Linked DNA regions of Homo sapiens. The protein of the gene in region 1 purifies or fractionates together with the protein of each later gene. This does not show direct contact. Each region holds a gene or a part of one and is shown in the gene's direction. Other genes may lie near its edges.

Region 1 (3,751 bases):
ACATACCACAGGTGCTCGGGGTAATTGCTGAATATTGGTCACAAGTAAGCCTTAAAGGCAGAGTCAAAATGCAGATCCCAAGCTCTGTTGGCCAGAGGGAGTGTTGGCCTGCTGAGGGTACCTATAAGTCTTGCTTGGGAATGGAAATGGAATTCTATCAGGAGTCAAGCACACCCTTTGTGAGCATTCATGATGGGACCTCGGAAACTGCTTGTCAGCTCTGCTGCAGCCCTGGCCACTGTGGCAGGAAGGACCGGCGCCTCTCAGGCTTCTCACCCCCCTCTCCTCTCCTTCCATTGCAGTGGCTCTGTAGTGTTGTTGCGCTCCAGTGCAGCATATTGAAACATTTATCTGCTAAGCAGATGCCTTCGCATTGGGACTCTGAACAGACAGAGAAGGCTGATATTAAGCCTGTTATTGTGACTGACAGCTCAGTCACCACCTCCCTGCAAACAGCTGACAAGACACCTACACCTTCCCACTACCCCTTGTCCTGCCCCTCAGGGATTAGCACCCAGAATTCCCTGAGCTGCTCTCCACCCCACCAGTCCCCAGCCCTAGAGGACATCGGCTGCAGTTCTTGTGCGGAAAAATCCAAGAAAACCCCTTGTGGGACTGCCAATGGGCCAGTGAACACAGAGGTGAAAGCTAATGGCCCACACCTCTACAGCAGCCCTACTGATTCCACGGACCCCCGGCGACTTCCAGGCGCTAACACCCCACTACCAGGCCTCTCACACCGGCAAGGCTGGCCCCGGCCCCTCACGCCACCAGCGGCTGGGGGCCTTCAGAACCACACCGTCGGCATCATTGTGAAGACAGAGAATGCCACTGGCCCCAGCTCTTGCCCCCAGAGGAGTTTGGTTCCTGTCCCAAGCCTGCCCCCTTCCATTCCCAGCTCTTGTGCCAGCATCGAGAACACCAGCACTTTGCAAAGAAAGACTGTCCAATCACAGATAGGACCTCCGTTGACAGATTCAAGGCCACTGGGCTCACCCCCAAACGCCACCCGGGTGCTCACTCCCCCGCAAGCAGCAGGAGATGGTATCTTGGCCACAACAGCCAACCAACGATTCAGCTCACCAGCGCCATCGTCAGGTGAGTGCTGCTCAGCCTTGGGTTGATTTGGAATAATTTTATGCTCTTTCTGGCAAATAAGATTCTAAAAGCACTTATATCCCTGTGAATACTTCAGAGGACTTTGGCCTTTGTATTGTTTGTCTTACTCTCATTTCCGTAATAGAAGAGGAAGCACATGTTAACTTGTCCCGTTTATAAATGGGACTGCTTAGGCTCTGAAAGCTTCAGTGATTTCCTTAAAATGACCTACTGAGTCAGTGGCAGGATTGGAACCACAGCCCAGGTCTCCTGACTCCATCCCATACCTTCCAGGCCTAGGCCTCTGCCTGTTTTGTTCTGTCACCTTAAAAGAAGGCAGGGTGCTCTCTGGAATTACTATGATCAGCCTGAGGTTCTGCGTGATGGCCTCAGTATTGTCAGATCCACACAAAAGAATGGATTCATGCCTGATGCATATTCTCAGAAAGAGTTAATCTGATGAACTTCCATGTCAGGAAGCAGGGCTAGACAGCAGCACTGTCTTTCAGAGGAGCTGTAGAGTGGGATGCCCACAGGGATTGTTCTAGCCCAGAAGCGTGCCCTCAGGCCACATGCCAAAGGGCGGTCCTTCAGGTCTGTACTTGGCCTACTGTGGACCTGCTCTCTCAGCTGTCCCCAGAGAGCACTCAGGACCTTGAAGTTGCTGACCCCAGCATCTGAACCAGGTTTCAGATGCTGCCGGAACCCTCTGTGGTCTCTCCCGTCTGAACTGAAGCCGGCCTCCTAGTCAGCTGGGAGTCTCGGTAACCAGATGATTGTGATTTCTCTGCATGGGAGCCCCTGGTCCCAGGATGGCCCCGCTCCCAGGCTGTTTTCCTATCTCTGTTTATCGCTTAAAACCAGCGTGGGTAGATTCTCCACGCCGTGAGTCATATTTCAGTAGGCAAGAATTATAAGGGCAGGCACTACTTATTTTAAAGTAGAGGCAGCAGGGAGGTGGTCATGGCCCAAAGAATGAAGCTGCCCCACCACTTTCCCCAGAGCAGTGGATTTCAGTGGTTCTCAGTGCTCTGGAGACTCCTGCGTGCCTGGGTGCTTTGTCGTTCCATCTGCCCTTCCTCACCACACGTTTTTAGCTCTAGGAGTTCCAGAGCCTATGGGTTGAGAATCAAGAAGGGAACATCACCTTGGGTCCGAAATCCAGACCTGTCTCAGCAGTGGGGGATTGGACGGTGGGTTTCCCTCAGGCGACGTAAGTAACAGTCTTCCTGCTCCGTCCCCAGATGGCAAGGTCAGCCCCGGCACGTTATCCATAGGAAGCGCTTTAACCGTACCCTCTTTCCCAGCCAACTCTACTGCCATGGTGGACCTCACCAACTCACTTCGAGCATTTATGGATGTCAATGGAGGTGAGTGAATGAGCTGCTGCTGTTCCACCGTTTGCTATGTTGAAGGTGCTATTCCTATACAGCATTCAGCTCATTTCAGAAAGGGAGGGAAGGGACACCTGATCCCAGAGGCCTAGGGGGAGATGGGAATGAGGAGTATCCTTTTGGATGGGGGGGCGGGGTGAAAAAGAAAGCTCCTTCTGTAGCTCTGCCTTCTACATGTGCATATACACATAATCAAAGATGAAGGGAGGACAGAGCCAAGCTGAACCAGTGAGACGAGAACAAAATCACTTTAGGCAGATCACCTGGATTTGCAGAATAAAACTAAGATCCTCACTCCCAAAGGAGGGACCTCATCTGTGGGAAACCCCCAAAGTCCAGGAGAACAGGGACAGATCTTGATCTCTGTGAACACAAGGTGGGTAGAAAGTTCAAGTCTCAATATCAGACATCCAGGCCCTCCCCCACAGACAGGCAAGTGGTTTATTCCACTCTGCCTTTCTAGGGGCACTTTAATTAAAATCAGTCCACCCAACTACAGGAGGCAGCTGCACAGGCTGCATTGGGGCCCATCTCACTGCAAATGGCAAGTGAGATGCCCAGCTGCAGATCCTTGTACGCTCTGCACTCAATGCTGTTTGAGTAAAAATCACTTGGCTGGATTTTAGAAATGCCAAACTATTTGCTCTGTGACCCTGATTTGCTTCCACATTCCACTTCCCATCTCAGCTGCTTTTTAATCTTTCTCTTTGGCTAATAGAAATCGAGATAAATATGCTGGACGAGAAGCTGATCAAGTTTCTGGCCTTGCAGAGAATACATCAGCTTTTCCCCTCCCGGGTCCAACCTTCACCGGGCAGTGTCGGGACACATCAGCTGGCTTCTGGAGGGCACCACATAGAAGGTGCGCATGTACACACCTGTCACCACATCATCAGATCTCCCCTCTACGTGTGCGAATGGTCACCTTGCCTCCATGGAGAATCTGAGCTTCCAGTATCTCAAACCTCCTTGTGTGCTTTTCATGGGCTTAATAAAGCACCATGGTTTTTTTCTGAAGAGAGCAGGAACAAGATGGCAACCACAGCTTTCTGATCAGACTTGGGGAAGTCTGCTGTAACTTTCTTTCATATATAAGTCCACTTCGAGACACAGCAAAGCAGCTACCAGTACCTTTGGGTATATGTAGTGTACTTTCTGCTTACTTGCTTTCAAATATTTGAATTAGAAGGGCTTCCCGACTGAGTGCAGTGGCTCACACCTGTAATCCCAGCACTTTGGGAGGCTGAGGCGGGAGGATC
Region 2 (3,751 bases), on another chromosome or scaffold:
AAAAATCAAAAGATTTTGTGACCCGTGAAAACGATTTTAGTGTCTGTAGTTTTATCGGAACGCAGCCAAATGCATCCATATTTTCCATGGCTGCTTTGCGCTGCAAAGCGACAGAGTCGAGCAGTTGCCCCCAAAGCCTAAAATATTTACTATCTCGGTCCTTTTAGAAAAAGTCTTGCCAACTAATGTCCTAGAATATGAGGGCTGTATTGCTTAAACACCCTTCCAACTCTCTTCCCTCTCTAGCCACCCCCTCAGCCTTAGGCACTAACAAGATTCCTTGACCCAGAATGGGGGGAGGGCGTTATAATAATGAACGGTATTGTATCGGAAACAACACAGTAAATATCTACAGAAGGGAATGTGACTGGTTCTGCCACTGACTAACGTCTGGGTTTGCGTCCCGGTCAGAAAAGTGGGCATGACAGCGGCATCTGCAAGATAGCATCTGAGCATGAAGGCACTTGGAAAGGTATCAAGGCAGCAAATGTTCCGGGGGTGCTTTTGCAAGAGGAGCCTCTCCCGGAGCTGGACGTACACTTCGGTTCCCTTTGCACGCAGGCACCTTGGTCGCCTCCCCCAACTCCGTCCCCTCTGCTCCTGGCCCTCATTTTCTTCTATTTCCCTTTTGGCCTTGCAGCCAGCTTTCTCCTCCCCCGACACACTCCTCAGGGGCTATGAAGTTCCTGAGCAGAGCAGGGCTCAGGTAAGCAGGCCCAGGGTAGTTCAGCCCTGCTCTCTCCAGCTCCGCCAGCTTGGGGTGGGGTCGCGCTGGGACCCCTGCAGGTGACAAAAATGACTCAGCAGGGGCCGGGGCTGGGATGAGAAAGGAACGCCAGTGCAGGGACAAAATCCCCTGAAGCGCGAAGAGGCCGCAAACCATCATCTTAAGGACCCAAACATCGAACAAATTAAAATGTAACAGTGTAAATCGGCTTCGGCCCGCCGGCGGCCTGTGCCGCCACAGGCTGCACATTTAGCCTAACAGGGCGGCCCGGCGGCTTTTGCAGGCAGAAAACGCCCGCGGCCTCTCCAAAAGCTCTCCTCCGTCTGAGACCAGCCCCACCTCGGCCCGACCGGGCCCCAGGAAAGGCCAGTCGGCTGGAGGAGAACATTTCAGGGGTGCAGAGAATTGCATGTCCGTGATTATCAGGGAGACTTTGAAGGCACAGTAATCTCTCGAGAACAGGAACCATTTTCCCCTCTTGCTCTGAGATTTTGCTTGGCTAAGCGGCGGCAGCCTCCCTGCCCCCCTCTCACCCCCACCACCGCTGCCGCTACAAGCAACCACGCCCCGCGGGCCCCAAGGCTCGCCGCCCCGGGGCTCGCGGCCCCCACTCAGCCGGCCAGCCGCGCCTCCATCAGCCCCGCCCTCGCGCGCCCCCATCCGCCCCGCCCCCTCGGGCCCTCATCCGCCCCGCCCCCGCGCGCCCCATCCGCCTCCGCGGCCGGCCCTGGGAGCGCCGGGCGAGCCCTCGCGCCTGCGCATCGCCAACTTCCTGCCGCGGCACGCTCCGCCCACCCCCAGAAGCCCGCCTCCGAACGCCGCGTGAAACCCGCCCGCCGCGCGTCATTGGTCTCGGCGCCGGAGCCGTTGGCTCCCAGACCCGCCTCTCCGCCTCCTCTCACTTTTCCCAGGGCGGATGCGCCTGCGCTCAGCTGCCTGGGCGGGCTGGGAGGCGCGGGTTGAAAAGTCTCGTTCCAAGTTTGGAGAGAGAGAGAAGAGCGCCTCAGACCTCGGTACCCGCGAGCGGGGAGGAGGCAGGAAAGAAGGACGCGGCGTCTGGGGAGCACCCAGGCAGCAAGACGGGGCCCGGGCTTTCGACAGTGGGGAGTGTGACGCGCTTGGGAAAGGCAGGAGCGCCAGCGGTCGGGCTGCTCTTGGCTAACGAGAGGAGTCCGAGGCGGCGGCGAGGGGCGAACGACCCGACGCAAGATGGCGAGTAAAGAGAGTAAGAGGCCCTGCGGGGCGGCGCGCGCCGGGGCCGCGGGGGGCGGCGGGCGCGCGAGGCCGCGGCACGCGCCGGCGAAAGGCGCGAATTGGCGTGCGGAGCAGGGGGCGGGGCCGGGCGCGAGACTGGGCGCGCGCCTCGAGGGGCCTGCGCGGGACGGGACCGCCGCGCCGAGGGCTCCGAGCACTTCCGGAGCCGGGCGCGGGGCCGAGGGCTGGGCCCCCCTCTTCCCTTCCCTCCTCCAGCGGCTGCGCTCCCTCCGGCGCCCTCGGCCCCGGGGCGGAGGCGGCCCCCGCCGCTGGGAAGCGAGCGCCGCGGCTCTTTCTACGCGCGCGCGCGCGTTGACCGCCTCGGGGTCGCGGCCCTTGTCCGGGGGTTGCTGGGGTCCTCAGGCCTATGGCTGCCGAGGCGGGCGTCGTGGGAGCTGGGGCCTCCCCTGATGGGGATTGGAGAGACCAGGCCTGTGGGCTTCTGCTACACGTGCATTTGTCTTCCCGACTGGGTCGCGCAGCCCCTGTACGTACAGGTCGTCATCTTAGAACAGGTGCGAACAGCTGTAACAGGGTAAACAATTTCCATGTCCGTGTAATTGACTACCCAACATGGTGTACGCAGGGGGTATTGATCTCAATGGAAAAAATAGGCTTCCTGATTGTTAGTATTTTCTCCACCTTCTGGAAGAGCAGTTAGTTGTCCGTGTCCAAATTAGAGGTAAAAGGAAAGAGTACATGAGGTGTGGCCATCTTGAGGTGACCTCCAATTTCTGACTTTGATCTATCTCAGCCACTTAATCGTGTGGGCTTTCTCCAAATTTCAGTGTTTGAAGATACTGTGGAGGAGCGTGTCATCAATGAAGAATATAAAATCTGGAAGAAGAATACACCGTTTCTATATGACCTGGTTATGACCCATGCTCTTCAGTGGCCCAGTCTTACCGTTCAGTGGCTTCCTGAAGTGACTAAGTAAGGGTTTCTGGCAACTTTTATTTTGTTTAAATTTAACTGTCGTTCTGAATTTCCTAGTTTTGGCGTTTTATGCATAGAACATAAGTATGTAATCAGCCCTTGCATGAGGTGGCAGGTGGTTTTTATTTTCAAAACTTACGTGATTTGTGGGATGATTTCTGGTGTATAGTGTGGTGGTAAAAGGGGAGAAAGAAGCTGTTGTGAGATTAATCGTGTTTGGAGGAAGCACTGAATATATTTGACATTTCCTGGGCTTGAATGTAGAGCAGCATCTTTCTGGGCCCAAACTAATGCGTTTCTTTAAAACTTTACTGAAAAATAGAATATTTACGGAAAAGTTCACACATCTTAAGTGTTGTATGGCTTGATAAATTTTTACAAAGTGAACACACGTAACAGTCATCCAAGATAAATACATTTTAATTGGTAAAGGGAAAAAGACCTTGTCAACAATTGACCAAAGAAAAGATGTTATCGGCTTATGGAATACACTTTGAGATTGCTGTTAGTCTTCATAAGAGTATTCTTTTCTGTTACATCTGCAGTTTCTCTGGTAATAATTGCTGGCATTTATTGAGCACTCAGAACAGGGCCTGGCACATCTGAAGAATCTACGTCCTGTTGTTTGTTGTAATCCTCATAATAGTACTATGCTGTAGGTACTTTTCATCATCCTTGTTTTACTGATAAGGAAACTGGGAGTGAGAGTTTAAGTGCCATCCCAAGATCACACAGCTGGTCCCTGCATTAGACTGCCTTTCTCATTCACTTGCACCTTTTCTAGTAGGAACTTGACCATGTACTTTTAAAGTGTATTAAATATGGGGTCAGGCA
Region 3 (3,245 bases), on another chromosome or scaffold:
ATTAAAAGGGATAGAATATAATGAAATATATTTTGAACTTAAATTATATTCTATATGTGTATCTTCCTAGGCAAAAGCTGTAATTTCCAGAGAGACCATTAGGAACAGGTAGTATCTATTTTTCTCCATTATTTATTTCTAGAAACTCATAAAATGGATTGTATTTTTCTATAAGAACAAAATATTAATTAAGGTATAGATGACTGACCAAGGGCTTAATCAAATAAAATGACTAACAGCATCTATCATAAAGCCACACAAGCCTTATGTTCTCATCTCAAAAATGCTGTGACAGCTTTTTGGCTGCTTTAACCATAAGAAAAATGATTGGTGGATGATTTTATTAGCCCAGGCTTTTAAAAACTTTCATCTAGGCCACGTGCGGTGGCTCATGCCTGTAATCCCGGCACTTTGGGAGGCCTGAGTGGATGGATCACTTGAGGTCAGGAGTTCAGGACCAGCCTGGCCAACATGATGAAACCCTGTCTCTACTAAATATACAAAAATTAGTTGGGTGTTATGGTGCATGCCTGTAATCCCAGCTACTCGGGAGGCTGAGGCAGGAGAATTGCTTGAACTCGGGAGGTGGAGATTGCAGTAAGCCGAGATCGTGCCACTGCACTCCAGCCTGGGTGATAGAGCAAGACTGTCTCAAAAAAGAAAAAAAAGAAAAAATTTTAATTTAATCCTTCTGTAGAAACAGGCATTCAGAACCATTCCATTGATCTTAATAAAGCTGCTCTTTACTGTTTCTAGTCAAAAATGAGACTTCGATCAAACCATAAGATTTTATACTGCAGATAGTCAGCTTCACCAAAGCCGCAGAGGAAACATGTCGAGATCAGGCTTCCTGCTTGATAGTCTCTTGACTACCATTAAAACGAATATTGGGAGGTCATGAAAGTCATTGGTAGGCCATTAGCATTGATATCTTTAAAACATCTACCCTAAACCATCTGCTATGGACCCATAATAAGAGGCCTGTTGTATATGAAATTGTCTAGAATTCAGGTGCAGGTCTTTGCCGGTTAAGTAAGGGAGCAACACGTAAAATGGGAGAGGAGTGGGGTGTACTCACTTGCCTCCTCTTTTGTCCTGATTTAACCAGCATTTTTCAACCCTGGGAAAATTTGCAGAATCTAAGTTGATTGTAATGATTTTGAGCTGCAGCAGCTTTAACTCTTACCCTTTTTCCACATAGTTATGGTGTTTGAGTTGGAAAGAAACAACTATAGGTAGCTACACGTACATAATTATCTCTTTATTCACAAAGGGTATAGTAAAATTGATTGTAAATAACTTTCTAAGTGCCAATATTCAAAACTTTTGGATTAAAATGTATTTTTCACCGTGCATTTACTTTGGATGTATTTATTTCATTTAAACAATTTAAATGGGGCTCTTTAACCAAAAATGGTATTTAAAACCAAAACAGTATCGTACTTAGAATTTGGAGTAGAGGCCGGGCACAGTGGCTCACGCCTGTAATCCCAGCACTTTGGAAGGCTGAGGCAGGCGGATCACCTGAGGTCAGGAGTTCGAGACCAGCCTGGTCAACATGAAACCCCGTCTCTACTAAAAATACAAAAATTAGCTGGGCGTGGTGGCGTGCGCCTATAATCCCAGCTAGTCTACTCGGGAGGCTGAGGCAGGAGAATCGCTGGAACTCAGGAGGCAGAGACTGCAGTGAGCCGAGATCGCGCCACTGCACTCCAGTCTGGGTGACGGCATGACTCCATCTCCAAAAAAAAAAAAAAAAGATTTTGGAGTAGATTCATCATTAATAAGTAACAGATTTTAGGAAAATCAAAAAATGGCTAATAAAATGAACACAATGTAAAACATTTATTAAAATGTAGACTTTTAAAAATCTATAAATTGATCATCTGTTTATAAATTGGCAGATGGTTGTGTACCATCTTTTAAAATAAAGATTGAATTTCACCCAGTGTGATGGTTCCCATTGCTTATATTTCTCCTGCTGAGGCCGGACCTGATATGGCCCTGGTCTGTGTTCCCAGCCTTGTTTCCTCATTACCACTAAAATCTTTCCCCTGTATGCCCGCCCAATTTTTCTGGCTCTGAGTCCTTGTTCATACTGTTCTCTCCAATTCTACCTTCCAAAGGCCTTTCTTAACACCTTCGGATTCTTTCTTTGAGAACTTTCCAGATTCCCATGCCTTTTTGGAATCAATCTCTATCCTATTGTCATCACATTTAAGTTTCTACTTCCATCATCCTCACTCCTATCCCTTTGGTCCTGGGATGACAGGGATGCTGTGTTTTATTTACTCATCTTTGTAACTTCCACATAACCTAACCCCGGTTCTTGCTTATGGGAGATGCTGATTGTAGGGTCTGAGTTAGATACTGTTAACTAAAATGCTTGTTGATATTTTAGTTATTAATTCATATTAACTTTGGCTGAAACTTTTAAATTCTATTGTGAATAGTCAAGTAAAATTTAGATTGTTACATTCTGGGTTAGTATTAGATTGTTTTTAAGATTGTTTTAAACAAGATGTTTTTAAGATGAGTTTTAAATAGTTCTCTTAACACAAATAAAGCTTAATATGAGTATTTGAAGGAAATTATCCCAAACCATTCCAGTTCCTGGCTGTGAAAGGCTTTTCCAGGCCTAATAAGTTTTCCACTTCAGCCGTAAGTAGGTGAAATCAAATGAACAATAGAGGGAAATGTATTTATTTGCTTTATACACATGCATGTGTGTTGTGTCTACATATAAACATTGCACACGCTTAGAATGAAGTTTCTGTCATGCCCAGAAAAGGGAGAGGCATTTTTGTGGATTTTGTCTGGCTGCCCTGGGGATGTTTGAAGAACTGTGCTGTTTACTTCATACCAGGTGTGTGAGCCATACCTTTGGTAGGAGGGTATACCTCCTACACCCAAGAAATATAAGCCAGGAGAAGGTCTGTGCCAAGAGAAGGAACCCAAATGACCCACAAGAGGTGGGCCATTAATTATTGGGTCAGATGCATAAATGCACAGTAATTTATTTAAGCACCTCTTAATGGTGACCCACAAGGAAGATTGCTCGTAGTAGCGGAAAGGTTCACAATAAATAAGAGAAAAAAGCAGAATGTAGAACTGTATGATAGCAATTCTGCAAACAAGAAGCATCTTTTATAAAAGATGGAAGGAGCCCAGGCACAGTAGCTCATGCCTGTAATCCCAGCACTTTAAGAGGCTGAGGTGGAGGATCACTTGAGCTGCAGTGACCC

What was found.
Region 2: the proteins of PHF12 (region 1) and RBBP7 purify together in Homo sapiens (affinity purification with mass spectrometry; 7 studies listed by BioGRID and IntAct, with this or other methods). This does not show direct contact.
Region 3: the proteins of PHF12 (region 1) and GATAD1 purify together in Homo sapiens (affinity purification with mass spectrometry; 7 studies listed by BioGRID and IntAct, with this or other methods). This does not show direct contact.

Annotation. Positions count from the first base shown.
Region 1 is NC_000017.11:28,909,829-28,913,579, reverse strand, and holds part of PHF12 (PHD finger protein 12), read left to right. Parts: intron 1-302; coding exon 303-1,098; coding exon of another isoform or gene 1,099-1,124; exon of another isoform or gene 1,125-1,436; intron 1,437-2,342; coding exon 2,343-2,468; intron 2,469-3,210; coding exon 3,211-3,354; coding exon of another isoform or gene 3,355-3,545; exon of another isoform or gene 3,546-3,751.
Region 2 is NC_000023.11:16,868,239-16,871,989, reverse strand, and holds the start of RBBP7 (histone-binding protein RBBP7), read left to right. Parts: upstream 1-1,627; 5' UTR 1,628-1,936; coding exon 1,937-1,952; intron 1,953-2,126; exon of another isoform or gene 2,127-2,348; coding exon of another isoform or gene 2,349-2,496; intron 2,497-2,769; coding exon 2,770-2,914; intron 2,915-3,751. UniProt on the Homo sapiens protein: Core histone-binding subunit that may target chromatin remodeling factors, histone acetyltransferases and histone deacetylases to their histone substrates in a manner that is regulated by nucleosomal DNA.
Region 3 is NC_000007.14:92,457,482-92,460,726, forward strand, and holds the end of GATAD1 (GATA zinc finger domain-containing protein 1), read left to right. Parts: 3' UTR 1-2,594; downstream 2,595-3,245. UniProt on the Homo sapiens protein: Component of some chromatin complex recruited to chromatin sites methylated 'Lys-4' of histone H3 (H3K4me), with a preference for trimethylated form (H3K4me3).